7 linked regions of the Homo sapiens genome follow. The protein of the gene in region 5 purifies or fractionates together with the protein of the main gene of each other region. This does not show direct contact. Each region holds a gene or a part of one and is shown on either strand. Other genes may lie near its edges. The genes, in order: TUBGCP3, TUBGCP2, OFD1, PRKAR2A, PCNT, CEP72 and CHLSN.

The links.
Region 1: the proteins of PCNT (region 5) and TUBGCP3 purify together in Homo sapiens (affinity purification with western blotting, with the first as the bait; one study listed by BioGRID). This does not show direct contact.
Region 2: the proteins of PCNT (region 5) and TUBGCP2 purify together in Homo sapiens (affinity purification with western blotting, with the first as the bait; one study listed by BioGRID). This does not show direct contact.
Region 3: the proteins of PCNT (region 5) and OFD1 purify together in Homo sapiens (affinity purification with mass spectrometry; one large-scale study listed by BioGRID and IntAct). This does not show direct contact.
Region 4: the proteins of PCNT (region 5) and PRKAR2A purify together in Homo sapiens (affinity purification with mass spectrometry; one large-scale study listed by BioGRID and IntAct). This does not show direct contact.
Region 6: the proteins of PCNT (region 5) and CEP72 purify together in Homo sapiens (affinity purification with mass spectrometry; one large-scale study listed by BioGRID and IntAct). This does not show direct contact.
Region 7: the proteins of PCNT (region 5) and CHLSN purify together in Homo sapiens (affinity purification with mass spectrometry; one large-scale study listed by BioGRID and IntAct). This does not show direct contact.

The regions. Positions count from the first base shown.
Region 1 is NC_000013.11:112,553,185-112,557,535, forward strand, and holds part of TUBGCP3 (gamma-tubulin complex component 3), read right to left. Parts: intron 3,041-4,351; coding exon 2,868-3,040; intron 1,822-2,867; coding exon 1,703-1,821; intron 999-1,702; coding exon 873-998; intron 1-872. UniProt on the Homo sapiens protein: Component of the gamma-tubulin ring complex (gTuRC) which mediates microtubule nucleation.
Region 2 is NC_000010.11:133,298,657-133,303,007, reverse strand, and holds part of TUBGCP2 (gamma-tubulin complex component 2), read left to right. Parts: intron 1-27; 5' UTR 28-66; coding exon 67-216; intron 217-2,894; coding exon 2,895-3,023; intron 3,024-3,404; coding exon 3,405-3,581; intron 3,582-4,351. UniProt on the Homo sapiens protein: Component of the gamma-tubulin ring complex (gTuRC) which mediates microtubule nucleation.
Region 3 is NC_000023.11:13,755,216-13,759,566, forward strand, and holds part of OFD1 (centriole and centriolar satellite protein OFD1), read left to right. Parts: coding exon 1-27; intron 28-1,362; coding exon 1,363-1,552; intron 1,553-2,444; coding exon 2,445-2,575; intron 2,576-3,121; coding exon 3,122-3,233; intron 3,234-4,351. UniProt on the Homo sapiens protein: Component of the centrioles controlling mother and daughter centrioles length. Recruits to the centriole IFT88 and centriole distal appendage-specific proteins including CEP164. Involved in the biogenesis of the cilium, a centriole-associated function.
Region 4 is NC_000003.12:48,837,024-48,841,374, forward strand, and holds part of PRKAR2A (cAMP-dependent protein kinase type II-alpha regulatory subunit), read right to left. Parts: intron 1-4,351. UniProt on the Homo sapiens protein: Regulatory subunit of the cAMP-dependent protein kinases involved in cAMP signaling in cells. Type II regulatory chains mediate membrane association by binding to anchoring proteins, including the MAP2 kinase.
Region 5 is NC_000021.9:46,330,643-46,334,993, reverse strand, and holds part of PCNT (pericentrin), read right to left. Parts: intron 598-4,351; coding exon 226-597; intron 1-225. UniProt on the Homo sapiens protein: Integral component of the filamentous matrix of the centrosome involved in the initial establishment of organized microtubule arrays in both mitosis and meiosis. Plays a role, together with DISC1, in the microtubule network formation.
Region 6 is NC_000005.10:618,289-622,639, reverse strand, and holds part of CEP72 (centrosomal protein of 72 kDa), read right to left. Parts: intron 3,651-4,351; coding exon 3,523-3,650; intron 2,572-3,522; coding exon 2,379-2,571; intron 1-2,378. UniProt on the Homo sapiens protein: Involved in the recruitment of key centrosomal proteins to the centrosome.
Region 7 is NC_000007.14:995,844-999,565, forward strand, and holds the end of CHLSN (protein cholesin), read right to left. Parts: intron 1,962-3,722; coding exon 1,782-1,961; 3' UTR 1,591-1,781; coding exon of another isoform or gene 1,573-1,590; 3' UTR 1,163-1,572; downstream 1-1,162. UniProt on the Homo sapiens protein: Hormone secreted from the intestine in response to cholesterol, where it acts to inhibit cholesterol synthesis in the liver and VLDL secretion,leading to a reduction in circulating cholesterol levels. Acts through binding to its receptor, GPR146.

The sequences.
Region 1 (4,351 bases), on a different chromosome or scaffold from region 5:
ACCAGCCACATTCTTACCCACCGGCCACGTTCCTGCCCACCAGCCACACTACAGCACCACACTCCTCCCCACCAGCCATGCTCTTCTCCATCAGTCACGCTCCTACTCACCAGCCACCCTCCTACCCACCAGCTACGCTGCCATAAGTCCTGTGCTACGCTGAGCTTATAGTACACAGTTGTTCTGTGATTCAATAATTTTTGGAGATTTCATTGGCAGTAATTACTGCCCAATAATCAACCTATGGACAAGACCACATGCTGCTTAGCCACAAAGAAGGGCTGGACAGTGGAGATGCCACGGCTCCTATTAGCTGCCCCCTGTCAGGCTCCAACAGGAGGAGAAGCAGCAGCAGCTCCCTCCCAACCATGCACTGTGCCATCGGCAGTGCCCACCCAGGGCTGTCCAGACAGCCATAGCCAGGATTCCCATCTCCAGCTTCGGCAGTGTTCCCAAATCCTGCCTCACCGTGCTGCCTGGGGAATCACGCAGCTGGGAGTGTCCCCTGTTGGCAGGCCCCGTCCCAGCAGGGCCCCTCCTCAACCTTCTGGAGGAGGCAGCAGCAGCTGGGCAGGGCCCCCTTCGAGCGTTTGGAATCGGGCAATGCCAGCTCCCCATGGCCAGCTCTGTCTCACCATTTTCTCTGTATTTTACAGTCCTCCAGCAGTTCCTGAGCCAACCTGCTGTATTCAGTGTCCTCATCAGCACCTACTGTGGTTTCTACTGTCTTGAGTGGACCCTGAAAGTTGACTCTCAAAGCTGCTTTACTTGGAAAGAGCCTTAGAAGGAGCTATTTCACAGTAAGATTTCAACTAGAGTAAGCGTTTCCCAAAGTGCGCAGCATCCCAGCATCCTAGGAACCATGAACGCACCTGCCCGACGAGTCCGAATGAGCGGTCCAGGCTCCTCTGGTCCGTGTATCTTCTGATTTTATTATGCAACCATCCCAACTCAGAAAGCCTGACTGCTGTGTCTCTCAAAGACCTACTTAGATTTGCCTAAAAAGTAAATACATCAAATGTTAAACATTAAAAAGCAATACTAGAGCTTTAATTAGTATTTTTCTCAAGCACTTCTACTTTTAATACTATAATCCTTAGGCTTCAAGACATAAAAGTTAAAACTAAGATCCCATCACTAAAGGGAAGGAAAGCACATTAAGTGACAGCATGATGGAAAGCACCTCAAAGGGCATGGTGAGCTCATTTCACACCACCCTGCAGTTGGCCTGCGGTGTGGCAGAGAAGGTCTGTGATCTCAGCCACGCTGTGAAAGGGCTAAGAGCCACAGTGTGACCCACACCACAAGAAATGGGCATGGTAAAGGCAGATTATGGAAAAAGGAAACAAAAGTGGGTGAAGACCCCTGACCTGGAATCCTGCATCAATGCCGAAGGTGCCAAGGGACCTCTGTCCCCTGGGTGCCTCAGCCATCACACAGCAGGATGCAGAAATCAGCTATGGGGCAGCCCCATCAGTAGACGTGAGGAAAGGAGGCACACATTAATCACAAAGGGTCCCCATAACAAAACTGAACGAGCCACAATGGACAGAAATAGAAACCAGAATTCCACAGTGCAATTTCACCTCACAACCGATTCGCAAAACCCCAGTACCACCTTATCAATCAACAGCCACTATCTGGACTTCATGACATGTTTTTTCTTTCTGAATATTTTAACTTAGATTTTATGTTACTGTACCTTTCCTTCTACTTTGTAACAATTTTCAGTGTTGTTCATTTTGATGTTTTTGCCATCTATGCCCTGAAAGACGTACAAAATGTCCCTTACCAGAGCTGCTTCTGTAATTTCCATAGTACCTGCAAAATCATTTTTTAAAGACAGTAATTACTAGACAATATTTTAACAGACAATAGATATTATGGTGCAATTAGCTTCAGATTAGATATTTGCCACCCCGATGAAATTTACTAACTCAATAAATAAGCTCAAGATGAAAAAGAGTATGAGATTAGAAAGAAACAAGGCGAGTCTCAGTCTAGAGGTTGGCCTGCTGTGCCATGAACGCACAGCTGTCAAACACGACATGAATCTGCAGCTGTGGACAGAGGCTGGACGCGGGAGCCACACACAGGGACAGGCGGAGTGGGGCAGATGGTGGAGACTACTGCGGGGGCTAATACTGTGCCAGGATGTCCTCCAGCTCTCAGATGCTCCTCACCTTTGCATTCTACGCAAGGACAGGTACAGGTAACATCCAGAGCCATTTCGTAATCAGCAGATTACGAGCCAACAGGGAAACCCAATCCTCTGTTTTCAGGACACTCATGTTTCAAATGCTGCTAACTGTAGTGTTCTCAATAAAGAAACTCAAGCTTCCTTTTGGAATCTAGCAGGGCTTTAAAACCCTCCATGAGGTATTCATCTCACCATTCAGTAATTCCTCAATGACTCTCTTCGACGTGCCAGGCACTGTGCTGAGCACTGGCACCATAAATGAAAAGACATAGCCCCTCTGTGGCCTTAAGACTTTGGTAGAAGAAGGTGACTTTTACTGGGGGCCTAACCCAGCCTTAAAGACTTTCCCAGGGAAACGGCAGGATGAAAACAGACAGGGAGAATGTGATGAGGAACAGCAAAGACGAGAGATGTGGAGGGAGGAGGCCACATGGAAAAGCAGCCAAAAAGCAGACTGTGCTGGGAGGAAAAAGCCCAGGTGGCCTGGGGTGAAAAGCCAAACTCCCCAAGGCGCCGCAGACCACCAGGGACTCTGGACTTCATCATAAGAACAAGAAGAAACCACTAAAAGGTTTGAGGTGGGGCTCCTGGGCTGTACTTTAAAATAAGGAGAGGCTGAATTCCAAGTGTTCACAGAAAAGCTGTATTAACATAGATCCTTACTCACCACCCGTATCCCCTTCTCTCCTGGACCTTGTCATGTTGCGAGACACAGCACTGGGGACACCTTTTGAGGTAGTGGCTTGTGAAGAAGGCTGATTTGCAGTTAAAGTCCATGCGAGTCGTGACCCCAACTGCTGTCGAAGGCAATCTCCTACTCCTGGAGCTTGATTAGACTGTCTAAAAAAAGAAACATGTATTATCTTCTAATAGGCTATTCGCTGAAGAGACAAAAGTGTCCCTAGAAATTTCTCTTGTATTACTATCGTGAATTACATAAATTTATAAATCTGGTATAGCTGATACCATGACTTTACCCTAACCGAATATATCAATAACAGACAGTCCCAAGTCCCTTGAACTTGGTCAAGCCTCCTTGCGACCCTTGGCCTAGCATTCGGACCCAACACAGCAGTGGAAAAATCATCTTACTGCTACCTTACAATATATATTTCTTACCATTAATATCAAAATCTATTTGGCTTTTCTTTATAAACATATAACATACCTTACCCACCCCATAACCACTTTGAAATTCTCTACTTATTTTAACTTCAAAATCCACAACTCTCGTTCACTCCCCATGTACTGAGCAGAGGAATCGAGTCACTGTGACACTGCCCCAGGCGCCTGGCCTCACCTGTCTTCAGCCTTCAGAGTGCTCACTATGAAAAGAAACTGCAATTTTCAATTAACTGCTAAAGTATACAAACGTATAAAATCTAAGGCAAATGCATATTCAAGGTCAAGATGGCTTGTCAGCAATTTTGAGACTATGTCAAAGTTGTTTTTTGAAAAATGTAAGAACCTCATAGCTGATTTCTAATAGCGTCAGTTTTGACAGGTGCAACAAAAATATCACTTCCTGGGACTACAAAACACAAAAATGAGAACCTCAGCTGCTCTACAGTTTCCAGGTGCCAGAGCTTGGATTTAGTACTGGTGCAATACTGGGGGGGTTTATCCATAATCCACTCGTGAAGTAAGGAGAACAGGAAAGAACTGAAACAGTTCTTATTTTATTCCATTTTCATCAGGAGAGAAGTCAACAACATTCACTAAAACTATGTCTCTGGGCATAGTTCTAAATTTAAGAGGATGATTCTAAAAGACTTTCAGTTCAAAGTTCTCTATACAGATTTTTAATAGGATAATAATTCAAATTCTGAGGTATAAATGAGAATGTCAATTGATTCTTTTAGCTGGAACTTAAATTCTAGATTAAATGTGTCAAGTTCTGTTTTTAAATGCTTTGCGTTTTCTTCATAGAACACTAGACCCCATTGGTAATCCATATGTATAGAACACACATTCTGTTTTCGAGTATCTTGAACATAATTGAATAAATCACAAAATGATTTATAATTCTATTACACTCACATGGAAAACACCATTTATTTGATGCTAAATCCTTGGTCACTGTTTTTCTGGAAAAATATCTACTTTATGATAATCCACTTTAATGCGATTTCCGGGAACCAACTATGGCAA
Region 2 (4,351 bases), on a different chromosome or scaffold from region 5:
TATGAATAGCTGTCTTCTTACCTATAGGAGAACATATTGTGATGTTCGTGCCTCAGAGCTAAAACTATGAGTGAATTTCGGATTCACCATGACGTCAATGAACTGCTTAGCCTGCTGCGTGTCCACGGAGGAGATGGGGCTGAGGTCTACATTGACCTGCTTCAAAAGAACAGGACCCCGTACGTCACTACCACTGTCTCTGCTCACAGTGCCAAGGTGAGCACTGCCCTTGGTGTAGCGCTGTGCAGGGTGAGCACTGTTCCTGGGTCAGGGTGGTGCAGGGTGAGCCCACCCCTGGGTCAGGGTGCAGGGTGAGCGCCGTTCCTGGGTCAGGGTGGTACAGGGTGAGCACCATTCCTGGGTGAGGGTGCAGGGTGAGCCCACCCCTGGGTCAGGGTGCAGGATGAACACTGTTCCTGGATCAGGATGGTGCAGGGTGAACCCACCCCTCAGTCCATGTGCAGGATGAGCGTCGTCCCTGGGTCAGGGTGCATGATGAGCACCGCCCCTGGGTCAGGGTGCAGGGTGAGCGCCACCTCTGGTGCAGGGGGCAGGGTGAGCGCCACCTCTGGTGCAGGGTGCAGGGTGAGCGCCACCTCTGGTGCAGGGTGCAGGGTGAGCGCCACCTCTGGTGCAGGGCTGTGCGGGGTGCAGGGTGAGCGCCACCCCGGGGTCAGGATGGTGCAGGGTGAGCACTGCCCCTGGTGCAGGGCTGTGTACCGTGCAAGATGCAGGGTGAGTGCCCGTTCCTGGGTGGCCTCAATGGTACCGGCAACGATGGCAGACAGCACTTGGTCTGTGTGTGTGTTCAGCTCTGATTCTCCTGACTCCCCCCAGCAGCTCCTGTGATTCACCCCACTGTGCAGATGAGTAAATGGAGGCCTATGGAGAAAGCTGGGCCTAGAACCCTCCCTCTTCCCCACTCTGTCCCCTGCAGCCATGAGGTGGGAGAGTCCTGACATGTGCATTCCTGTGGATAAAAAGGGAGGGACTGGGCCAGGCGCGGTGGCTCACACCTGTAATCCCAGCACTTTGGGAGGCTGAGGCAGGTGGATCACAAGGTCAGGAGATCAAGACCACCCTGGCTAACACGGTGAAACCCCGTCTCTACTAAAAATACAAAAAATTAGCTGGGTGTGGTGGCGGGCACCTGTAATCCCAGCTACTCGGGGGGCTGAGGCAGGAGAGTGGCGTGAACCCGGGAGGTGGAGCTTGCAGTGAGCCGAGATATCGTGCCACTGCATTCCAGCCTGGGCGTCAGAGTGAGACTCTGTCTCAAAAAAAAAAAAAAAAAAAAAAAAAAAAAAGGGAGGGACTGGTATTAACCATGTTGAAATGCCTTTAAGGTATTATTTCTTTATTCAGATAATATGTAATTCAGAAGTATAGATTTTCAGTAAAAATGATTTTGAATTTGAAGTCTATTTTAAAAAATACATTATGAAGCTTCAGTTATTTAAACAGGTTAACAATGGCACAAGGATAATTAGGCAAATTAGCCGAGTGGAATAGAGACTTGGGGACACCCATGTTTAGTTCATTCTGAAGGAAGCATTGTAAATCACTGAGTAAAACATAACCCCTGCTGGGCACGGTCGCTCACACCTGTAATCCCAGCCCTTTGGGAGGCCGAGGCGGGTGGATCACCTAAGGTTGGGAGTTCGAGACCAGCCTGGCCAACATGGAGAAACCCCATCGCTACTAAAAATACAAAAATTAGGGCGTGGTGGTGCGTGCCAGTAATGCAGCTACTCAGGAGGCTGAGGCAGGAGAATTACTTGAACCAGGGAGGTGGAGGTTGCGGTGAGCCTAGATCACGCCATTGCACTCCAGCCTGGGCAACAAGAGCGAAACTCCGTCCAAAAGAAAAAGCATAACCCCTAGGGTTGCACATAATAACAAATTCCAGAGGGAACATAGTGAGGTGTATACAATGAACGCATAAACTACTGCGGGGAATACAGTGAGATGCAGACAATGAACGCATAAACTACTGGGGGGAAAAGGTAAGTCGCTACTCTCCAGTACAAACCTGAAGAAGCATAAAAGGGAACACAGTGAGATGCATACAATGAACGCATAAACTACTGGGGGGAAATGCAAGTTGCTACTCTCCAGTACAAACCTGAAGCAGCATAAAAGGGAATACAGTGAAATGTATACAATGAACGCATAAACTACTGGGGGGAAGTGTAAGTCGCTACTCTCCAGTACAAACCTGAAGAAGCATAAAAGGGCGGGCGCAGGGGCTCACACCTGTAACGCCAGCACTTTGGGACGAGGCAGGTGGATGGCTTGAGCCTGGGAGTTTGAGAGCAGTCTGGGCAACATGGTGAAATCCTGTCTCTAGAAAAAATTAAAATAATACGAAGAAGCACAAAAGGAAAGGAACCATAATGGGAAATACGGATAAGGTTTGTTTTGTTTTGTTTTGAGACAGAGTCTTACTCTGTCACCCAGGCTGGAATGCATGTGGCACGATCTTGTCTTACTGCAGTCTCAACCTCCCAGGCTGATGTGATCCTCCCATCTCAGCTTCCCAAGTAGTGACCACAGGCAAGTGCCACCACGCCTCGCTAATTTTTGAATCTTTTTGTAGAAATGGGGTTTTGTTATTTTGGCCAGGCTGGTCTTGAACTCCTGGACTCAAGCAGTCTACCAGCCTCGGCCTCCCAAAGTGCTGGGATTACAGTCATGAGCCACTGCCTAGCTCAAAACATGGATAAGTTTAACACAATATGGAGATGAGTTTTGTTAGTTTATTTCAGAGGGATAATTATTTAACCTACCCAATTTAATTCCATTGGCTTATTGTGTTCAATTTTCGTAAAGGTTTTTTTTTACAGTGCTTTATTAATTACCGTCATTAAATCACTCATGTTTGTGCTTTTGAGGTTAAAATTGCAGAGTTTTCTCGTACTCCAGAAGACTTTCTAAAGAAATATGATGAACTGAAATCTAAAAATACAAGGAACCTTGACCCGCTGGTGTACCTGTTGTCAAAGCTCACGGAAGACAAAGAGGTAGGTGCCCATGCCACGTGCCACACTGCGCCCGTACGGCCCATGTTGGGAGTGGGGTCGCGTCTCCTGCTCACTCCACGCCATCTTCCTGTCAGCTCTTCCTCGCTCACACCAGTAACGCTTCTAGGCCATGTAGGAAATTTTTGGTGAATCAGAATGAAAGATAACCCATGTTGGGTGTAAACATGAGAAGCAGCCTCTGGGGCACTTTGAGCTTCCCGCATGTGTCACGCTCAGTTCCTGCCTGTCGCACGCGTCGCTTTGCTATTAATGGGTGCCTGTCAGGGTTGGGGAGCCGTCCTGGTGGTGTCGTCCCTACTCTCCCCCTATGGCCAAAGAGGTGCTGGCCCAGTGTGAACACACAGTTTTACATGTTTTCAGACTCTGCAGTACTTACAACAGAATGCAAAAGAAAGAGCTGAGCTTGCAGCCGCTGCTGTGGGCAGCAGTACCACCAGCATCAACGTCCCTGCCGCGGCCTCCAAGATCTCCATGCAGGAGCTTGAGGAACTGAGGAAGCAGCTTGGCAGCGTGGCCACAGGCTCCACGCTGCAGCAGGTACTGCGTCCATGGCTGTCCACAGGCTCCATGCTGCAGCAGGTCCTGTGTCCGTGGCGTCCACAGGCACCCACACTCAGTGCTGTGCCGGGCCCCTGCTGGAAGGACATGTCTCTCTGTCATTTATTGAAAATGAATCCCTTAGAGAGGCCAAGGCTTAATGCTTGATCATGACCTAGCTCTATATGTTTAGTTTTTTTTTTAACCAAGAATTCTGGACCACAAGAATCAATAGCAGCAAGGTTCTGACCCACGTGGGAGTTGTGCTGCCAGGTGGCCACGTGACTCTGAGCCTACCCAATCCTGACTCCCCATTTCCCTCCTCCAATTTTTGACAATTTTGAGGGAATGCTTTCAGATCATTATATTTTCAAGATTCTCGAAAATACAGTAATTTTTATTATTCCTTCTGTATTTGCTACTTGCTCTTGGTTTTGATTTTATGCCCTACCCTGGTCTTTTGACGTAAGTCATCTCCCAGTCTCTCTCATTAGAGCTGCCACGTTCCTGCCTTTGTGACCTTTAAACTCCCTTTGGAGCTGTGTCCCTGAGGCGTCCTAGCCTCCTGGGTGCGTGTTGAGTGCAGCGGCTCCCAAGGACCCAGCCGGTTCTTGCTGGGCACGTTCTGTGCTGGACATGGTGCTAGGCCTCTGTCCACGTCTCCCTCAGCCGTGGCAGAAGACTGGGTCTTACTGCCACGTGCAGAGACAGTTTGCATCTGCCCGTGTCCCTGACCAGCCCTGAGTGGGAGTCAGTGCTTCCGAAAGCTG
Region 3 (4,351 bases), on a different chromosome or scaffold from region 5:
TCTGTAAATCGTGTGAAAGAACTTGAGGTAATTGTTAAGCATGTTGGTTTTTGAAATAGATTTTAAGCAATATATGAAATTTTAGTCATACATAATTTATCCTAAGTCATCCTGTTGAGATGTTTGGACTGCCATTTATATGGCTAAGAAGGTGTTAGCTGAAGTTAATTCAATAGTTCTTAATTTCAGTCAGTGTCACATAGGAAAGTGTAGATAGAGCTTTGGGTCCTGGAGTCCTGCCCACATCCTGTCTGTGTCTCTAACTGCTTGTGTGTCGCTAGGTAAGTTCTGTGACTGCAGGTTCCTGAGCTGTAAACTAGGATGTTTTCCACATTATAGGGTTGTTGAGGGAATTCAGTAAGCTAACTTATGTGCCTAGTTCATAGCAGGTGGCCATTACTATTAGTTTCTACATCAGCCTGTTATCTCCTTCCATCAGCAGCAGGTAAACAAAATTCCTGTCATTACATTGTTATCTTACAGATTAAAACAAAATGAGGTACATTTTTCACATATCATTGCTTCTTTACTTTTCTGTTCATTCGTGTGCTTGCTGTCTGAAGGATGAAGCTGGAACTTTAGGTACTTACAACATATTTTGTATATGAAATTTATTTTAGCAACTGTGACTTATGTGAGAACTTTGTAGGCTTTTTACTCAAATATGAGATATACTAAGAAAAGGGAAGCACTTCACAACATTTTACAGAATCTTTTTTCCTTTCTTTCCCTTTTTTTTTTTTTTTTTTTTTTGAGACAGAGTCTTGTTCTTTCGCCCAGGCTGGAGTGCAGTGGTGTGATCTTGGCTCACTGCAACCAACCTCCACCTCCCGGGTTCAAGTGATTCTCATGTCTCAGCTCCCAAGTAGCTGGGATTTCAGCCATGTGCCACCACACCCAGCTAATTGTTGTATTTTTAGTAGAGATGGGGTTTCACCATGTTGCCCAGGGTGGTCTCGAACTCCTGAGCTCAAGCAATCCTCTTGCCTCAGCCTCCCAAAGTGCTGCGATTACGGGCGTGAGCCACCATGCTCAGCCATTTTTATCTTACCTTTCATATTTAAAAAATATATATTGCTATGATGTGTGATTATTGTTGGGTTCTTGGTTGCCTCTGGAAAATGGGATGATAATCTTAGAAGGACTTGCTTCATGGGATGCGGCCTATAAAAGTTCTGCCCCAACTGTAGGGCGGAAGATAATTTTCGTTATTGTAGTTAGAGTCTTATTGTAGAGAATCAGACTTCTGTCTAGTGACCTTAATTAAATTGTGACACCATGCTTAAAGGAGCCTGCCAGCTTTTACTTTTGCAGTACTGTAAAGTCATTATTCAAATGTAAATTTTCCTTTTTGAATTTTAGCTTGAATTAGAGTCTGTCAAAGCCCAGTCTTTGGCAATAACAAAACAAAACCATATGCTGAATGAAAAGGTTAAAGAGATGAGTGATTATTCACTACTAAAAGAAGAGAAACTGGAGCTTCTGGCACAAAATAAATTACTTAAACAACAACTGGAAGAGAGTAGAAATGAAAACCTGCGTCTCCTAAACCGTATGTATTTTTCTTTTCTTCTGACTTGCGTGTTTTAGTAATTCGCATTAGGTCAGTATTATAAAACTATGCTTTGTACTTGTATAAGGTAGGGGGCTTACATTGGGAAGATTTATAAAATTAAGATTCTTGGATTAAACTCTGCAAACCTGCCTATAGGTGGTATCAAAGCTTCCCTTGCCCTCTGACTGCTGATTGGGTTTGGCCAGTGGGGACACCAGCCTCTACATACAGTGGCCCTAGGCTGGCCACTGTGCCTCATGGCCAAGTGAGGCCATAGTGCCTGCGATTACCTCTTCCAAGTGCTCTGCACCACCACCCTGTCTCTAGTGCTGAGAATTTCTCCCTCCTCTGATTCCCCAGGCCCAAGGAGCGCTAACAGTATGGCCCTGTTACTAGCCCACCCAGGGAACTCCACCATCCTTTGTGCATACCCTGAATAAGTCAACCTTTATTAAAGGGTTCTTAGATGACCTTGACCGTGAGAGCCATCTGCCTTCTGCCTGGATCCCAACTGCTGCTGTCAGATGCCCAGATCATATTGGATCCCAGGGCTGTCATCAACAGGTAGACCAGATAGAGAGCTCCTTCTGTGCACAGTAGAGGAGAGAAACAGGCTTTCAGGTTAATTTGAGAATTTGAAAGAGTTCTTTTACTTGGAGTAGGACTCCAAGGGTAATAAAGTTTGCATTAACATGCACTAAATTCTTTTGTTGTGAAATTTGAGAGTCAGGATTGCTCTGAGCTCATTTAATAGAATTATTATCATATTTATTGAGTCAGTACAAAGCAAAGAACACTTTAAAACCCCTTTAACTGTTTTTGTTAAGTTAAATAAGAAAACTTAAGGTTGGTAATGACTAGGATTTTTTTTTTTTTTTTACCTTCTTAGGCCTAGCTCAGCCGGCTCCTGAACTTGCAGTCTTTCAGAAAGAACTACGGAAAGCCGAAAAGGCTATAGTGGTTGAGCATGAGGAGTTCGAAAGCTGCAGGCAAGCTCTGCACAAACAACTGCAAGACGAAGTGAGTATTGCTCTTCTTCAGTTCTAGTGTGATACCAGTACACTTCATAGTTACGTAAACTTGGCACAAGTCACACTAGTGTAAATCAGATTTATTTTAACATCAAACATTACTCCCCCAAATATGCTAAAGGTATCCTTTCTCATCTGAGAAAATTCTGCAGTGATAACGTGACTTTATATTCGTAATAGTAATAAAATGGAGAAGAAAGCAAACTCACCTAAACATAAAATTTTCTGAGTGCCTGATGGTGCCCACTGTTATCTCTCGATTCTCACCCTGATAAGTATTACAAACATTCACTGTCTTCTGATTTCTGCCTGCATGCCCTAGAGTTCTTTGATATGACTGAAAAAGATGGTGAAGAACTTGTTTGTGTGTTCTGCTTGTGTTTTTTTTTAATAGGGACCCTGTTGTTTACTGTCATAAAGCTTCTTGGAATTGGCAGAACAAAAAGAGTACAAACATGATAAGAGAACTTTTCCTTTTGAAGCAAGCTGTGATTTGTTTTACATTGATTTCTTTTCCTATTCTGAATCTTTTCAGATTGAGCATTCTGCACAGCTGAAGGCCCAGATTCTAGGTTACAAAGCTTCTGTAAAGAGTTTAACTACTCAGGTTGCCGATTTAAAATTGCAACTGAAGCAAACTCAGACAGGTTAGAGACGTTTTAACCCATAAATATTTTTGTATGTATAAAGCTTCTGGTGTCTGTGAAAATGTAATGATCATAATTTATTGAATATTAATTATTGTTTTAGGGGAAAAGCCATAGAAATATGTGTCATCTTAGAAGTAAAACTCCCTATCCATTTTGGTAATACCATCTGGATCATCAGCAAAAGTATTTTGCTTCATAGGTGCCTCATGGCTTGGGAGAGTCTCATGCCCCAATAGGAAAGGCGTGGTGGTAACATAGAAGTCCCCATATTCATTATAGGATTTCCTTTTTTATTTGTTACCCCAATGTTAACACCAATTCAGTAGTTTTACGGATTCCTTGATAGATATATAAATATACAGGACAAGCAGGGTGGTTTAGCAAAAAGAATATTGCCTTCAGAATCAGAACTGTTCTTCTTTTGGACCCGTTTTGAAGTTGTTTGACCTTGGGCATGTTACTTTAACTTCCTTGGGCCTCAGTCTCCTCATTTGTAATGGGGATAATAATACCTACTGAGCCATGATGAAAAAGATGAAATGGGTTTCAGTCCAGTGCCTGGGACATAAAAGACACTCAGGAAATGGTTATTGGTATCATTTTATTATTGTGTCTTCACTGTGGATGCATCTCTGCCCCTTCCTACTTCGTAAGAAGGATATTAAAGTTCAGATACTTTATTCTTCAGTTGCTTTCAAGTTCAAAGAAAGTACGTATGTGTTACCAGTTCAACTGGGTCTGAGCCTTCCTTGTTCCCACCTGCATTGTTTCCTCATCAGCTCCTTGCTCTCTTCTACCAGCACTTGTTTTATTTTTATCTCTACTCGTTTCTGCTTTTTTCTGTTCCTCATTTTCTTTCAGTTCTGTTTGTGAAACTTCTCACAGCTGAAATCATAGCAGTCTCCTATCAATAAAAAATAGTTGAATGAGGATAGAACTCTTTCGCATGCATGTGTTGCCGAGGGCAAGCTTCTTTCTTGTAGCATCACGGGGAGGCATTGCAGGAGAGAGGGGCAGGTGCACTGGCTTTGCATTAGGAAAGCCCAGTAGCTCTTAGACTTGCTAACCGTGTGACCCAGCCTCAGTAAGCTTTAGTCCCCCCATCTGTAAAATGG
Region 4 (4,351 bases), on a different chromosome or scaffold from region 5:
AGGCTAAGGTGAAAGGATCGCTTGAGCCTGCAAGGGTTAGGCTGCAGTGAGCTATGATTGCACCACTATACTCCAGCCAGGGTGACAGAGACCCTGTCTCAAAAATAATAATAATAAAAATAAAAATTAGCCAGGTATGAAAAAAAAAATTAGCCACTTATGGTGGCGCATGAGCCCAGGAGCCCAGCTATGGTGGCATGAGCCCAGGATTTCAAGGCTGTAATGACCTATGATTCTGCTAATACACTCCAACCAGGGCAACAGAGTGACACCCTATCTTAAAAAATAAGAAGAAATGCAACTGACAAATACATGGAAAGATGTCCACTCAACATCATTAGTCATTAGAGAAATGCAAATCAAAACCACAATGAAGTACTACTTCACACCCACTAGTTTGGCTATAATAATTTTAGAAGACAGATACGTTCAGACAAGGATGTAGAGGAATTAGAATCCTCAAAACACTGCTGGTTGGAATGTAAAATGGTTCAGCCACTTTGGAAAACAGACTGGCAATTCCTCAAAAGGTTAAACAGAGCTACTATATGGCCCAGCAATTCTACTCCTATGAGAAATGAAAACAGCTCCACACAGAACTTGTACACACAAATATTCGTAGCAGCATTATTCATAATAGTCAAAGAGTGGGAACAATCTATATGTCCATCAACATATGAATGGATAAATGGTATATCCAGAAATGAATGGTATTTCCAGACAACAGAATAGTATTTAGCAATAAAAAGAAATGAAGTTTATTTAGAACAAGTGGAAAAAGGAAAAAAAAAAAAAAAGTACTGATACATGCTTACAACATGGATGAACCTTGAGTACATTATGCTAAGTGCCAGCGGCAAAAGACCACATATTGGCTGGGCACGGTGGCTAACGCCTGGAATCCCAGCACTTTGGGAGGCTGAGGCAGGCGGATCACAAGGTCAGGAGATCGAGACCATCCTGGCTAACACAGGGAAACCCCATCTCCACTAAAAATACAAAAAATTAGCCGGGTGTGGTGGCGGGCGCCTGTAGTCCCAGCTACTCGGGAGGCTGAGGCAGGAGAATGGCGTGAACCCAGGAGGCGGAGCTTGCAGTGAGCTGAGATCACGCCACTGCACTCCAGCCTGGGCGACAGAGCAAGACTCCGCTCAAAAAAAAACAACAACAACACATATTATATGATTCCATTTATATGAAATATGCAGGATAGGCAAATGGTAGAGACAAAAGTAGATTAGAGGATGCCTAGGGATGAGGGGAATGAGGGTGTTGGTGAGGTGATGACTAAAGTGTATGGTGACCGGGCGCAGTGGCTCACACCTGTAATCCCAGCACTTTGGGAGGCCGTGGTGGACAGATCACCTGAGGTTGGGAGTTCGAGACCAGCCTGGCCATCATGGTGAAACCCCATCTCTACTAAAAATACAAAAATTAGCTGGGCATGGTGGCACATGCCGGTAATCCCAGCTACTTAGGAGACTGAGGCACAAGAATTGCTTGAACCCAGGAGGGAGAGATTGTAGTGAGCTGAGATCTCACCACTGCACTCCAGCCTGAGCAACAGAGAGAGACTCCATCTTTAAAAAAAAAAAAGAAAAAAGAAAAGAAAAACAAAACAGTATATGGGACTTTTTTTGGAGTGAGGAAAAATGTTCTAAAAATTGTTATGGCGCCAGGCGCGATGGCTCATGCCTGTAATCTCAGCACTTTGGGAGGCCGAGGCAGGCGGATCACGAGGTCAGGAGATCGAGACCATCCCGGCTAACACGGTGAAACCCTGTCTCTACTAAAAAAAAAAATACAAAAAATTAGCTAGGCATGGTGGTGGGCGCCTGTAGTCCCAGCTACTCGGGAGGCTGAGGCAGAAGAATGGCACGAACCTGGGAGGTGGAGCTTGCAGTCAGCCGAGATCGCGCCACTGCACTCCAGCCTGGGCGACAGAGCAAGACTCCGTCTCAAAAAAAAAAATTGTTATGGTTGGTCAGGTGCAGTGGCTCATGCCTGTAATCCCAACACTTTGGGAGGCCGAGGCAGACAGATCACCTGAGGTCAGGAGTTCAAGACCAGCCTGGCCAACATGATGAAACCCCATCTCTACTAAAAACACAAACATTAGCCGGGCGTGGTGACACGCGCCTGTAATCCTGGCTACTCGGGAGGCTGGGGCAGGAGAATTGCTTCAACCCGGGAGGCAGAGGTTGCAGTGAGCCAAGATCACATCATTGCATTCCAGCCTGGACAACAAGAGCAAAATTCCGTCTAAAAAAAAAAAAAAAATTATTATGGTGACGGCTGCACACAGATATGAAAAACCAATTATACATTCTAAATAGTTGACTTGTATGTGAAGCATATCTCTATAAAGCTGTTACCTAAAAAAAAAAAAAAAAAATGCTGAGAGACCGGCAAGTATAAATGCTTTATGGTAATTACAGAAGTGAAACAATTCTGAATGTCGATTTATTGTTTGTATGCAGCTACAGTAATTTATTAATAAGTTTATACTCTTCAGGCATCTCTCAACATTAAATACGCATTATAATACTTTATACTTTGAAGTTATGTCCTGTTTGATATTAAAGCTGTTATTAAAATAACAGCTAGTAAGTTTTTTGACTCTTTCCAATAGGATACAATTTTATAAACTGAATTGGTGGTTAGTCACAAGGACCTCACTAAGCAAAGCTTCCTTGCTATATACAGTTATTACATATGATACTTCTTGTTCTTTTTTTTATTGGCTCTGGAGTTGAAACATATCCTATTTCTAATTTAAGTAGTGTAGACTTATTCTAATGTCATTGGGTATACAATTCATTTTTTCTTCCTTTTTAAATTGTGGTAAGATGTACATAAAATGTGCCACTTCACCATTTTAAGTGTACAATTCAGTGTCATTAAGTACATACATTGTGCAACCATCACCATTATCCAACTTCAGAACTTTTTCATTATCCCAAACTGAAACTCTGTACCTATTAAACAATAACACCCTATTACACCTTCCCCCAAGCCCTCGGTTAGCTCTCTTCTACTTTCTGTCCCTATGAATTTAGCTACTCTGGTTACCTTCTGTAAGTGGAATCATACATTATTTGTCCTTTTGTATCTGGCTCATTTCATTTAGGATAATATTTTCAATGCTGTAACATGAATAAGAATTTCATTCCTTCTTAAGGATGGTCAGGTATGGTGGCTCATGCCTGTAATCCCATCACTTTGGGAAGTCGAGGCGGGACGGGTGGATCACCTGAGGTTGGGAGTTTGAGACCAGCCTGGCTAACATGGTGAAACCCCGTCTCTACTAAAAATACAAAAACTAGCCAGGCATGGTGGCACACGCCTGTAATCCCAGCTACTCGGGAGGCTGAGGCAAGTGAACTGCTTGAACCCAGGAGGTGGAGGTTGCAGTGAGCAGGATCGTGCCACTGCACTCCAGCCTGGGAGACAGAGCAACACTCGGTCTTATGTATATATATACCATATTTTGTTTATCCATTCATTTATGGATGTATACCTGGATACCTGGTTTGTTTTCACCTTTTTTTTTTTTTTTTTTTTTTTTTTTGAGACGGAGTCTCACTCTCTCGCCCAGGCTGGAGTGCAGTGGCACAATCTCGGCTCACTGCAAGCTCTGCCTCCTGGGTTCACGCCATTCTCCTGCCTCAGCCTCCCGAGTAGCTGGGACTACAGGCACCCGCCACCACGCCCGGCTTATATTTTGTATTTTTAGTAGAGACGGAATTTCACTGTGTTAGCCAGGATGGTCTCAATCTCCTGACCTCGTGATCCGCCCACCTCGGCCTCCCAAAGTGCTGGGATTACAGGCATGAGCCACAGGGCCTGGCCCACCTTTTTTTTTTTTTTTTTTTTTGAGACAGTTTCGCTCTTGTTGCCCAGGCTGGAGTGCAATGGCGTGATCTCCGCTCACTGAAACCTCCACCTCCTGGGTTCAAAAGATTCTCCTGCCTCAGCCTCCCGAGTAGCTGGGATTACAGGCGCACACCACCACACCCAGCTAATTTTTTTTTTTTAATTTAGTAGAGATGGGGTTTTACCATATTAGTCAGGCTGGTCTCAAACTCCTGACCTCAGGTGATCCGCCCGCCTCGGCCCCCCAGTGCTGGGATTACAGGCACGTGCCATGTTTTCACCTTTTGACTACTGTAAATAATGCTGCAATGAGCACTGGAGTATAACTATCTGTTTAACTCCCTGCTTAAAATTATTTTGGGTAGGCCGGGAACGGTGGCTCACACCTGTAATCCCAGCACTTTGGGAGGCTGAGGCAGGCAGATCACAAGGTCAGGAGTTTGAGACCAGCCTGGTCAATATGGTGAAACACCAT
Region 5 (4,351 bases):
GGTATGAAGAGAGGCTTCCCATTCACAGGCAACACTAAGAACGTGCAGGCGGCAGCACGTGGGGCCTACAGGGTGAGCCTCTGCCTCCAGCTCTCTATGCTTCCAGTTTCCACTTCTAAAGAGAGGCCCTGCAGAGATGGAAGGTCCTCTCACTGGTTTGGATTTCTACAACATAAAGAAATCTTTTGACAAAGAATACACCTTAACAGAGAACTTAAAGAATACCTTTGTGAACATCCCACGCTGTTCTGCTGGGTGGTCACTGATTGTGAAGATCCCACGCTGTTCTGGTGTGTGGTCACTGACTGTGAACATCCCACGCTGTTCCGGTTGGTGGTCACTGATTGTGAACATCCCACGCTGTTCTGGTGGGTGGTCACTGACTGTGAACATCCCATGCTGTTCTGGTGGGTGGTCACTGACTGTGAACATCCCACGCTGTTCTGGTGGGTGGTCACCGACTGTGAACATCCCATGCTGTTCTGGTGGGTGGTCACTGACTGTGAACATCCCACACTGCTCTGGAGGATGGTCATTGACTTGCTTCTGCTGCAGCTGTTCCAAGTCCTCTCTCTTCTCTCCATCACAGTCCTCCGGCTAAGAAGGGGAGGACCAGAAAGAAGCATTTAAAGCAAGGTCTAGGGCTGCAGCCTCAGGCCCTTCCCAGCTCCTCTATCTGCAGGCCTGTGCTGACTTCATTTAACAAGTAGAGCTCACTTCCACCTGTTCAGAACGTGCACCTTCCGCATTAACAATTCCCAAGCTCTAAACATTTTTTTTTTTTTTTTTGAGACGGAGTCTTGCTCTGTCGCCCAGGCTGGAGTGCAGTGGCACAATCTCAGCTCACTGCAATCTCCGCCTCCTGGGTTCACGCCATTCCCCTGCCTCAGCCTCCCTAGTAGCTGGGACTATGGGTGCCCGCCACCACGCCCAGCTAATTTTTGTATTTTTAGTAGAGACAGGGTTTCACCATGTTAGCCAAGATGGTCTTGATCTCCTGACCTCGTGATCCGCCCGCCTTGGCCTCCCAAAGTGCTGGGATTACAGGCATGAGCCACCACACCTGGCCAGCTCTAAACATTTTTATAATGCAAGTAATTTCCCTAATGATGTTCCTGCCCCTCTTCTTAATGAATTCTACTTTTTTTTTTTTTTTTGAGACGGAGTCTTGCTCTGTTGCCAGGCTGCAATGCAGTTGCACGAACTCGGCTCACTGAAACCTCCACCTCCTGGGTTCAAGTGATTCTCCTGTCTCAACCTCCCGGGGGTTTCACCATGTTGGCCAGACTGGTCTTGAACTCCTGACCTCAGGTGATCCACCCGCCTCGGCCTCCCCAAGTGCTGGGATTACAGGTGTGAGTAACCGTGCCCAGCCTGTAATTTTTTTTTTTTTTTGAGACAAAGTTTCACTCCGTCGCCCAGGCTGGTGGCATGACCTCGGCTCACTGCAACCTCCGCCTCCGGGTTCAAACAATTCTCCTGCCTCAGCCTCCCGAGTAGCTGGGACTACAGGCGCATGCCACCACGCCCGGCTAATTTTTTTTTTCTTTTTTGTCTTTTTTGAGACGAAGTCTCACTCTGTCACCCAGGCTGGAGTGCAGTGGCACAATCTCAGCTCACTGTAAGCTCTGCCTCCCGGGTTCACGCCATTCTCCTGCCTCAGCCTCCTGAGTAGCTGGGACTACAGGCGCGTGCCACCATGCCCAGCTAATTTTTGTATTTTTAGTAGAATCGGGGTTTCACCATGTTGACCAGGATGGTCTCAATCTCTTGACCTTGTGATCTGCCCAACTCGGCCTCCCAAAGTGCTGGGATTACAGGTGTGAGTCACTGCGCCCGGCCATGAATTCTACTTTAAAAAAGAAATTTAATTAATTTTTTGAGACAAGGTCTTGCTCTGTCACCCAGGCTGGCGTGCAGTGGTGCAATCCCAGCTCACTGCAACCTTAACCTCCTGGGCTCAAGTGATCCTCCTGCCTCAGCCACCTGAGTAGCTGGAACTACTGGCATGCGCCACTGTGCCCAGCTTATTTTTTATTTTTTTGTAGAGACAGGGTCTCTGTTCATTATGTTCCAAAGCTGGCCTCAAAATCCTGGGCTCAAGCAATCCTCCCACCTCAGCATCCCAAAATGCTGGCAATACAGGCATGAGCCACAGTGCCCAGATTAGCTTGCTTTAACAAGATGATTCACTAAGAACATTTCAATTTCTTCCCAAAATAGCAAAGAAACATGACAGTGTCGACTTTTCGGGATCATTAGATGAGTCACAAGATGAATGCAGAGAGAGAGCACCCATGGCCAATGATGATGGCAAAACTGACGTGAAAATAAAATCTCAGACAAGTCTTCATTTGACAATACCCTAGATCAATCTTCTCAGAATCAAGAGGAAGTGAGGGACGAAAAGGGGACACAGTAGTCTCAATCAGCTGCCCGCTCACATGAATGATCACACTTCAAAGGAACCTGGACCATCCACTTCCTTAAGAGGACACTTCTAATGTTTGTGTGTCAAAACTTACTTGATACAAAGAGGTTGGATCAAATTTCTTATAAAGTTGTTTTAAATTATTGCTTTATTCTTACTTCTGTAAATTACGTGTAAAACAACTTAAAATGACAAAACAGTAAAACGGCCCAGAAATCTAGATGATAAATGGTGATAACTATTTTTCCTGGTATTTGATACAAATATGAGTTGGAAAAGTGCTAGAACCACACTTCTTAAGCCTTCTATAGCACTAGTTAAATCTTCTTCAGCCAAAGTTTTTGTATTTTCTTCTGAAATTCTTGACCTCTGAGCAATTTTTGGATGGTTCTCTTTTTTTTGGAGATAAAGTCTCGCTCTTGTCCTCCAGGCTGGAGTGCAATGGCGCGATCTCGGCTCAGTGCAACCTCTGCCTCCCGGGTTCAAGTGATTCTCCTGCCTCAGCCTCCCGAGTACCTGGGATTACAGGCGCCTGCCATGAGACCCGGCTAATTTTTGTATTTTTAGTAGAGATGGGGTTTCACCACGTTGGCCAGGCTGGTCTCGAACTCCTGACCTCAGGTGATCTTCCTGCCTTGGCCTCCCAAAGTGCTGGGATTACAGGCATGAGCCAATGCGTCCCGCCAGATGGTTCTTTTACCAAAAAATGGCCTCTCCTCACTTTGTTCCTCATCTGTAACTGAAAGGTCAAATTCTGCTTTCTACCATTGCTTTATTTTTATGATTTTTTTTTTTTTGAGACAAGGCCTTGCTCTGCCGCCCAGGCTGGCGTGCAGTGGTGCCACCATAGCTCACTGTAGCCTCAAACTCCTGGGCGCAGGTGATCCTCCCAACTCAGCCTCCTGAGTAACTGGGACTACACGTGTGCACTGTCATGCCCAGCTAATTTTTATATTTTTCATAGAGACAGAGTTTCAACCATCCTCCCACGTTGGCCTCCCAAAGTGCTCGGAGCCACCATGCCTGACCTTGCTTTCTGCCATTTCTGAGTTAACTTTCAGAACTGAGACAGCTGTTGCATTGTTTCAACTATTTTTCCATCATGCACTTAACAAATTGTAAGGCAACAGAGCCGAATCCTGAATATTTACCACAAAGTCTTTCTGCAATTCTACCTTCGCTTATAACCATCCTGAAAAAAAACTAAGATCTTAAAGTTGGTTAAAAATATGTCTTATATCAGCTGGGCACAGCGGCTTATGCCTGTAATCCCAGCACTTTGGGAGGCCGAGGTGGGAGGATCACCTGAGTCAGGGAGGTCAAGGCTGAAGTAAGCTGATTGGGCCACTGCACTCCAGCCTGGGCGCCAGAGGGAGGACCTGTCTCCAAAAAAAAGAAAAAAGACTTATGCTAGAAATCATCAGTATTTACCTAACAGTTAGTGATCAAAGTAAGCAATTTATTATATGTTGGAAAGCACAATAACTTCTCCCTCCCCCTCACACACACATACACACACTCTCACACACACACAAACACACACACTTATCTTCTTATGCTGTTCAATAAGCTCACTAGACTCTCCATAGCCAAACCTCTCACAATTTATAGATGGGTAAAATAAAACAAATGCACCTTTCATTATGTTTAAAGCACTGGTACAACTATAACATAAAGGTTCCTTGAGGATTCCTGATCTCCGACGCAGCATGACCAACCATCTGAGAGGGGAGTGCCCTGGCCTGGGACATTATTCGGCCACACGGCCACCAGCTGCTAGCTTTAAACAGTGGACTCTTTCCTAGAATTTCACTTTTCAGAAGATCATTATTTTGAACACAAAATTACTCCTATTTTAACATCTACAACTGGATTAAAGGCATACTAAACTCAAATATCATGAAATATTTTATAATACAT
Region 6 (4,351 bases), on a different chromosome or scaffold from region 5:
TCGCTGCCAAGAGCTGCAGCACAGAGCTCTATCCACACTGCTCAGGCTCTGGAAGCCCAGCCGCAGGGCCTGTCCAGGGCCCAGCACTTGCCACATGAGTGGGTGAGCCAGGGTCTTCCCTGTCAGTGATGCTGGGAGCTAGGTCTCACTTTGGCCACACAGACGCCCTGAGTGCCTCCCAGCCCTTGCAGAGCAGCAAATGCCACCCCAGTTGCTGCCCTCCCATCCGATGCTGCCACTGCCAACTGCCAGCCCCCAGTGCCCAGGGGAGCTGAGCTCCTGCAAGAGCAAAGTCCACCAGGACCCAGGGATACTGTCAGCTCCTCAAGTCACTTTTAGAAGGTCAGAGAAAAATTGTTTTGATCGTTAGTTACTGAAAAATGGTCAAACTGTGGCAGACTGGGGCATTCTTCCAAGAGGACTCCTTTAAACAGATTTCAATCCATACCACTAACCTACACTGTCACCAAACAGAGGGTGTGTGTGCTGCATGCTGACAGCTCTTTCCAGCATCTCCAGAAACTTCTCCAAGTAGCAAAGCAGTGCAGTTTAAAATGTTAGAATTTGGCCAGGCTCAGTGGCCCACGCCTGTATTCCCAGCACTTTGGGAGGCCAGAGTGGGCAGATGACTTGAGGCCAGGAGTTCGAAACCAGCCTGGCCAACATGGCAAAACCCTATCTCTACTAAAAAGACACAAATTAGCAGGGCACAGTGGCACGCACCTGTAATCTCAGCTACTTGGGAGGCTGCGGCAGGAGTATTGCTTGAACCCGGGAGGCGGAGGTTGCAGTGAGCTAAGATCACGCCACTGCACTCCAGCCTGGGCGATGAAGCGAGACTATGTCTCAAAAATAAAATAAAATGTGAGAATTCCATATACAAACACATGTGTGATCACATCACCATCAAGATACCGCAGGCCAGTCCTCCCTGTGATGAGGTGACACGGCCCCGCATGGCTCCACGATGGCCCCAGACAGCCTTCCCGGTCTACTCGCTGAGGCGCTTAGGTGCTCCTCCACCTGTTTTCCCACCTCTGGTGTGCAGCTTTGCTGACGTCACACGAACTTCATGGGGCTGACAGGGTGAGGGCTGCCGGGTGTTCATCTGGTGGGTGGCAAAACCCCAGCTGGCCCTCAGTCCCGACGCCCACAACGGGCAGTACCCAGGGGCCAGGCACATCACCCACCAACGTGCTTTAGCTGCTGTTTACTTGAAATTGACATACAAATCTCAGTTCTCTAAGAGAACCTGAATGCTCCCCACAGCCGTGGAAAACAGCCTGTTCAGGGCACTCGCAGTGGGGGAAAGTGCTCTGTCCTCTGTGATTCTGTTGGTCTTTTGTTCTAACAAGATAGTTGGGATTCTGTGATTCTTTTGTTTTTGATAAGGTCCTAGGTTCAGAAGGAGGGGCAGCTTTCGAACAGCGGTGCATGGTAGGTCTGACCCTAACAACAGAAGCAACCAGGGAACGTTTATAGGCCCCTGGCCATGCCGGGCAGTCTGGGAGCTTACAGATATTAACTCAGGTCTCCCCACCACGACATGTCAACACAGCATTCTTATCCCCCCACTTCACACAGGAGGACTGAGGTAAGAGACCCTGCACCCTCTTCTTCCCCATGGACTCTGGTCAGTGTGCCCCTGGGCTGAGGCCCCAGCTTTCTCTCCTGGATCTGTGACTCGGGGTAGGGTCAGCAGAGACACCACCAGGTGCTCACAGCAACAGCAACAGCAACAATGCCTCCGGGGAGGCAGGAGGCAGATGGGAAGGTGACCTGCGGCTGCCCCAACCCAGGGACCCTCCCTACTGGGCATCGCTGTGGGGGCCCTGGAAGTTCTGCCTACAAGACTGTCATGGAAAGCCTTTTCTTTCAGGAGCATGATCCAAAGGTCACTGCACATCCCCTCCCAACCCTGTCCCAGTGGTGGGGTGTGGGGGACAATGAGCTGCTTGTCCTGTGTGCTTCCAAGTGGGGCAAAACCAGGCAGCATCCTGCTGTTTAGCTGCACCTGAGATGATACCTGGGGGCTATGCGAGGAAACAGGACAGGAGATGTTCAGGAACGTGCCCAAGTCCAACAGCCATGACGCGGAGAGCCAGAACAGGACGTAGCAGCCTGGTCCGGGGCTGTGCTCCCACGGCCCCAGCCCTGCGCCCTCCCAGGGTGCTCAACTTCCAGCCCTGTCCTGTGCAGACACAGGGCCTCTCGAGCTGTGTGTCTGCAGGAACTCAAGCCACCAGCGTAGAAAACCAACTCCCCGTTCCAGAAGGAATCAAGCATGTGACGTTGAGCACACAGACACCCACTACGACTCCCCGACTCCCATACCCCACGGGGACAAAAGCATGAGCGTGGCCCTGCCTGATGCCTACCCAGCTGCTGGAGCTTGGGGAGCAGGTGCACAACAAAAAGGCGGTAGTCAGGCTCAACCTTCACCACGGGGTTCAGCCGGAAGTCCACATCCACGAGCTCGGTTAAGGCGTGGAGCCGAAACACTTCTGCCAACGAGGAGATGCAGTTGTAGTAGAGATTGAGACTCTCCAATGCAGTCAGGTACTGAATGCCCTGTCAACAGAAAACACAGTGAATTCATTCACACTTTAAACAAGAAATACACAGTGAAATAAGCCAGCAACACACACTGACCAACCAACTGTATAAACTTATTTGCAATAACTCCATGTCATTACCAGGAAAAGTAGAAAAATGAAACGTTCTCATCTGTGAAGTTCTCTGGGCCCCACGCGGTGAGACGGTCGTTTATGGAACCCACATGTGACGCAACTAAGCACAGCTAATATCTACCGAGGCCTCAGCGTGCAGCAAGCTGAGTGATGTGCACGCACAATTTCATTTAATCCACACGCCGCCCTACAGGGTGAGAACCATCAGCCCCCCCTTCACAGATGAGAAAGCTGAGGCCTGGGAACGGGGAAAGATGAGGCAGCACTGGGTGTAGCCTGGGCTAGGTCCGCATCTGACTTGGAGCAGACTCCCGAGCTGGTGTCAGACGTGGCCTCCATAATGCTCAGGCACCAGGCTCAGGGCAGGCGCATCCCACGGTTCTGTCCGGGCCAATCAGGCCATGCAGACGCAGCCTCCATAATGCTCAGGCATCGGGCTCAGGGCAGGCGCATCCCACGGTTCTGTCAGGGCCAATCAGGCCATGGTAGTTGTGCACAGCTCCCCTCACCACCACCTAGGCATCTCTCTCCAGGGTGACCCTGCCAGGAGCCCAGGAGGCAGCCCCAGGCCCACTGCACTGCCACTCAGTAAGTCTCTGGGGTCTCATTTCATTTCCTTTAAAGATATAATCATCGTCATCAGAGGGCGACAACACAACGTAACGTGATGTGTATGAAATGTAGCCCACGGTAAACACAAAAATACGCAACACAAAGTGTACCGTATACAGATGTAAGCAGAGGGTTACAAAACAGACTCCGTTTCTGCTGTGAATGGACTTTCCACTGATGTTGATAGCAATAAATTTTAAGAAAGAGACCTAAAACTTACCTCCAGACTAACCAAGGAGTTGCGCGAGAGATCCAAAGATTTCAGACCTGTTAAACTCATCAGAGAATGTCCCAGGTGGGTGATCTTCTCTTGGTAAGTTCCAGGAATAGACAATGACTGAAGCTCAGCTAAGAATAGAAAAATTGTAAGATTTTAATCTTTTATTTTGAAAACAATTATAATAACGGTCAAGTTCTTGGTGTTGGATATGGAGTAGAAACTGACACAGATTCTTGGTTTAATTCAACTTTACTCAGGCTCCTGAATCTTCTCCTCGGCCATCTGTGCCCTTCCTTGTAAAGTCCAGTTTAGTGCGGCCAAAACCCCCACCCTCAGTATCTGCTCAGGTTCCTCATCCCCAGATCCCATAGGTGGTGTCTGCTCACCCTGGCCTCTCTTTCGCAATAATCCTGTTCAGTTGGTTTAGCCCAAATCCCCTTACTCCTCATGTGTCCTCTCAGTCATTTTCCATCCACTGCCCCCACCCTGACCCTAGGCTATAAACTCCCCCCGGCCCCTGCTGTACTTGGAGTTGAGCTCCATCTCTCTCCCCCACTGCAAAATCCCAGCGCAGTGGCCCCAGGCCCACCTCAATGGTTCTGAATAAAGCCTTCCTCACTGTGCCTGACAAGGGTCATTCAAAACATTTCTTCCTCTAACAGTATATGTAAAAAGATTGAAAGACAAACTTTAACACATGTGTCCTATTGTGGAATAAATCCCTTTATTTTCCCTCTTACACATTTCTGTATTTTCAGCTTTTCTCAGAGAGATATGTATCCTCGTAATCTGAAAGAGGCACCTAGAACTCAGTGCAACTCCTTTGGAG
Region 7 (3,722 bases), on a different chromosome or scaffold from region 5:
GGGTGGTCAGAATTTTGGCCACAACAGTTGGGGGACGGGGCTGGATGCTGGCCAAGGAAGAGCAAACAGCCTCATCTCCTTCCCACAGCTTGGTGGGTGCAGAGAGGACCTGGGGACACGGTCCTTAGGGTCTCCTCCGGCCCCGAGTCTCGATGTCCACATAGAGATGGCCTGAGTGGTCAGCCAGACCTGCCCAGACCACATCTTAGCCCAGCCCTGGGTGTCTTCAGGGAGCTAAGGAGGAAGTCACAGTAGACGTCCGTGGGTCACAGTGAGGCCAGTCACCGCTCTGAGGTGCAGGCCCCGAGGGCCACGGCTGAGGAGGCCCAGCCAGGCCAGCAGTGGCCACGGGAAGCCCCAGGCCCTCCCCACAACAACAGCCCGGAGCCTGTGACTCTGCTCTCACAGGGTGAGGCCGGCCGTGCTCCCGCCTCCCGGCTTGCATGCAGCTCTGTGCGTTGGTGGCAGCCAAGGCAGGCAGCCTGACCTCAGCCTCAGGAGCTCTGTTGGGGGGCGGGGCACCCAAGGGGGCACTCAGGGCCTGAGCCAGCGTCCCAAGGCTGCCAGGTGGCGGCTGCAGCTACTTTTCTGCTCCACCGTCAGTTGGGGGAGCACTGAGACGGCAGCACAAACCCCCAACCTGGGCTGGGCAGGAGGCGGCCCCGGGGCAGCAGCACCTGGGTGTCTGCTCTGTGGAGGCCCAGACCGGAGCCACTGGCCTCAGCCCTCCCCGGGGCCCATCCTGGAACAGACTTGGCCTCACAGTGGGGCACGGACCTCCTCGCCATGGCCACCCGGCCCTCCCCGGCAGCTGCCCAGAGCTCTGCGGTCACCACGGCCTTCCCGGTGCCCCGCGGCACCTCACATCACTTGGGGGCAGGGACCACGTGCTGCTGGGAACAGGAAGTGTGTGGCTTGATTCTGTGCGGCCTAAGTGTGTTTCCTGGCAGGGTCAGTCACTGCCAGCGCTGGGAAACGGCCGGCCTGAACGCAAGCGATCAGCCAGCACCCACTGCCAGGAACGCCACACACAGAGCGCCCCCAATGCCATCCTGGGGTGGCCACCAAGGGCGGGGTCTCAGCCTGGCGTGCGCTGGCATGGGGGACACGAATTCCGCAGTCCACAGGCAGGGGACGCACCGCACAGAGCAGGACCCACGGCTGCTGCTGGGTCGGGTTTTATTTCAAATGCAGCCACAGAGGCGGTTTCTGCACAGGTACGTGATCCGACTCCACAAGCTCCCACCAGGGGCTCCCCATGACCCGCAATGACGCTGTGTGGGGTCAAAGGAAAACAGGCCACAGCCAGGCCCCTCGATGGACGCAGGCAGGGGACCAGGAATGCGGCCCACGCAGGGGGATCGGGAATCAGGCGGAAGGTGCAGGTTTGCAGCTGGCGGGAGGAGCCAGCATGCCCCAATCTCTAAAATATTCCCGGTAGAAAAATAGACATTTCCCTCCAAAGCAGATTCCTGGGGCTGGAGGGTCCCTCCAAGGCCAGGGGTCCGGGTGATTCCAGAGCATCCACGCTCTGCGCTGAAGGCACTGAACCTGCCATCACTGTCACAGCCGTCACCGGCCAAGGAGGGTCTGGAGGAGGGAAGGGGCCCTTGCGAGGCTCTGGTGCTGGTGATCCCGGCCCCCACCACCGGAGGAGCTGAAAGCCCTTGCTCAGCCGCTGCCCTGCTGGTGAACCCGGCCCCCACCGCCGGAGGAGCTGCACCCTGTGTGGTCTGAGGCAGCCCTGCACTGGGCAGCGGCCCCGCCCCGCGCTGAACCCACTAGGAGAGCAGCTGCAGCACCTGTCGGATGCGCTGGGCCCTCCCCGGCAGGGGGGGATCAGAGCCCTCCTCATCCAGCTCCCGCATCAGGGCTTCCGCCTTCTGCACCGTCAGCTCTCGGGCCCGGCCCTGCAGCCCCTCCAGGTAGGCCAGCAGGGTGGAGAAGTGCTCATCGGGAACCTGGACGGGAAAGAGATCGAGTTGGTCAGGGGCGGGGCAGGGAGGGGCCGCTGAACAGCAGGAGACAAGACGCTGCAGCCAAGGACACCCGGGCCTCAGGCTTCCGTCCTCCCACTGCGGCCCGAGGGTGTGGGCGGCCTGGCCACAGACCCTGCCCCAGACACTGGAAGAAGAAATGCCTGTTTAGAGGCAGACAAAACACTCAATTAACCTGGGTAAAACAGAAGCCATGTGGGGAGAACATTTCACAAACATCGTAAAAATCCTCAGAAAAACGAGAAAATACGACACAAATTAAACAGGGGTAGGCGGTGATGAAAGGTGCATTCAGAACAAAAAGCCAAGTACGCGCCGGCACTTGGCACGCTCGCCTTTCTGCTCAGGGCGGCAGTGGCCAGGTGGCATCTCTTGGTGGCCTGACCCTTGTCTGCTGGTGGTGGGGGCACCTCTGCACAGGCTCACCAGTCACCTGACAATCTGCTCTGCAGGCACGTTTCCTCAGGTCCCTGTGGCAGCGGCTTTCAACACTGGGCTCTTTTTATTATTGAGTTAGCAGAGTTCTAATTCCATGTGGGACTTGCAAACGTCTCCCATTCTGTAGCAACCATTTCACTTTCCAGCTAGTTCTGTATGCAGTGCAAAGTCTTAGATTCTTTTTTTTTTTTTTTTTTTTTTTGAGCCGGTCTTGCTCTGTTGTCCAGGCTGCAGTGCAGTGGCACGATCTCCACCTCCCAGGTTCAAGTAATTCTCCTGCCTCAGCCTCCCAAGTAGCTGGGATTATAGGCAAGCATTACCACACCTAGCTAATTTTTGTATTTTTAGTAGAGACGGGGTTTTTGCCATGTTGGCCAGGCTGGTCTCGAACTCTTGACCTCAAGTGATCCACCCGCCTCAGACTCCCAAAGTGCTGGGATTACAGGCGTGAGCCACCACGCCCGGCTACACAGTCTTAGATCCTGATGAAGGCACTTTCTCGACTTTTTCCTTTGTCGCTTGTGCTTCTAGAGTCACATTTAAGAAACTGTTGCCTCACCCAAGGGCACGAAATGGACTCTTAGGCTTTCATCTAAGAGTTTTGGTTTTAGCTTTTAAATTTAAGTCTCTGATCCATTTTGAGTTAATTTTTGCATATGGTTTGAAGCTGGGGGCTGCGTGCATTAAGTATCGGCATGTTCGTAAATATGTACGGTTACATATGAAATAAAAATGTATAAGTAAAATGCACATTTGTGTGTTTGTAAATATGTTTAATTACAATAGTGTAAGATAACTTTGCGTGTGTGTGTGTGTGTATACACACATATAAATGGCTAACCAAGGATTTGCCTAACCAAGGATTATTTTTCTGTATAAAAAGTTTTGTATAAAGTTTACTTTTGGTAATAGTAACATATAAATAAAACCACGTAAACTTTGGTTAAAACAAAACAAAACGTGGAAACCCAGTTGTCCCTGGCTCTGTTAAGAAGAGGTTTCCTCCACATGGAACAGGCTTGGCCCGCATGCTGGAATCAGCTGCGCCGGGCGTGAGGGTTTCCAGGCTTCCCAGGCTGTTCCAGTCAATTCTACTTCCACCCTTGTGCCTGCCCCAGTGTCGCGATTACCGGAGCTTGCAATAGGGCTTACAATCGGCTTGCAATAGGGCTTGCAATGTGTATGTCCTCTAACTCTGAGGAGGGAGAGTGGCTTGAGCCCAGGAGGTCGAGGCTGCAGTGAACTGTGGTCGTGTCACTGCACTCCAGCCTGGGCGGGGCCCTGTCT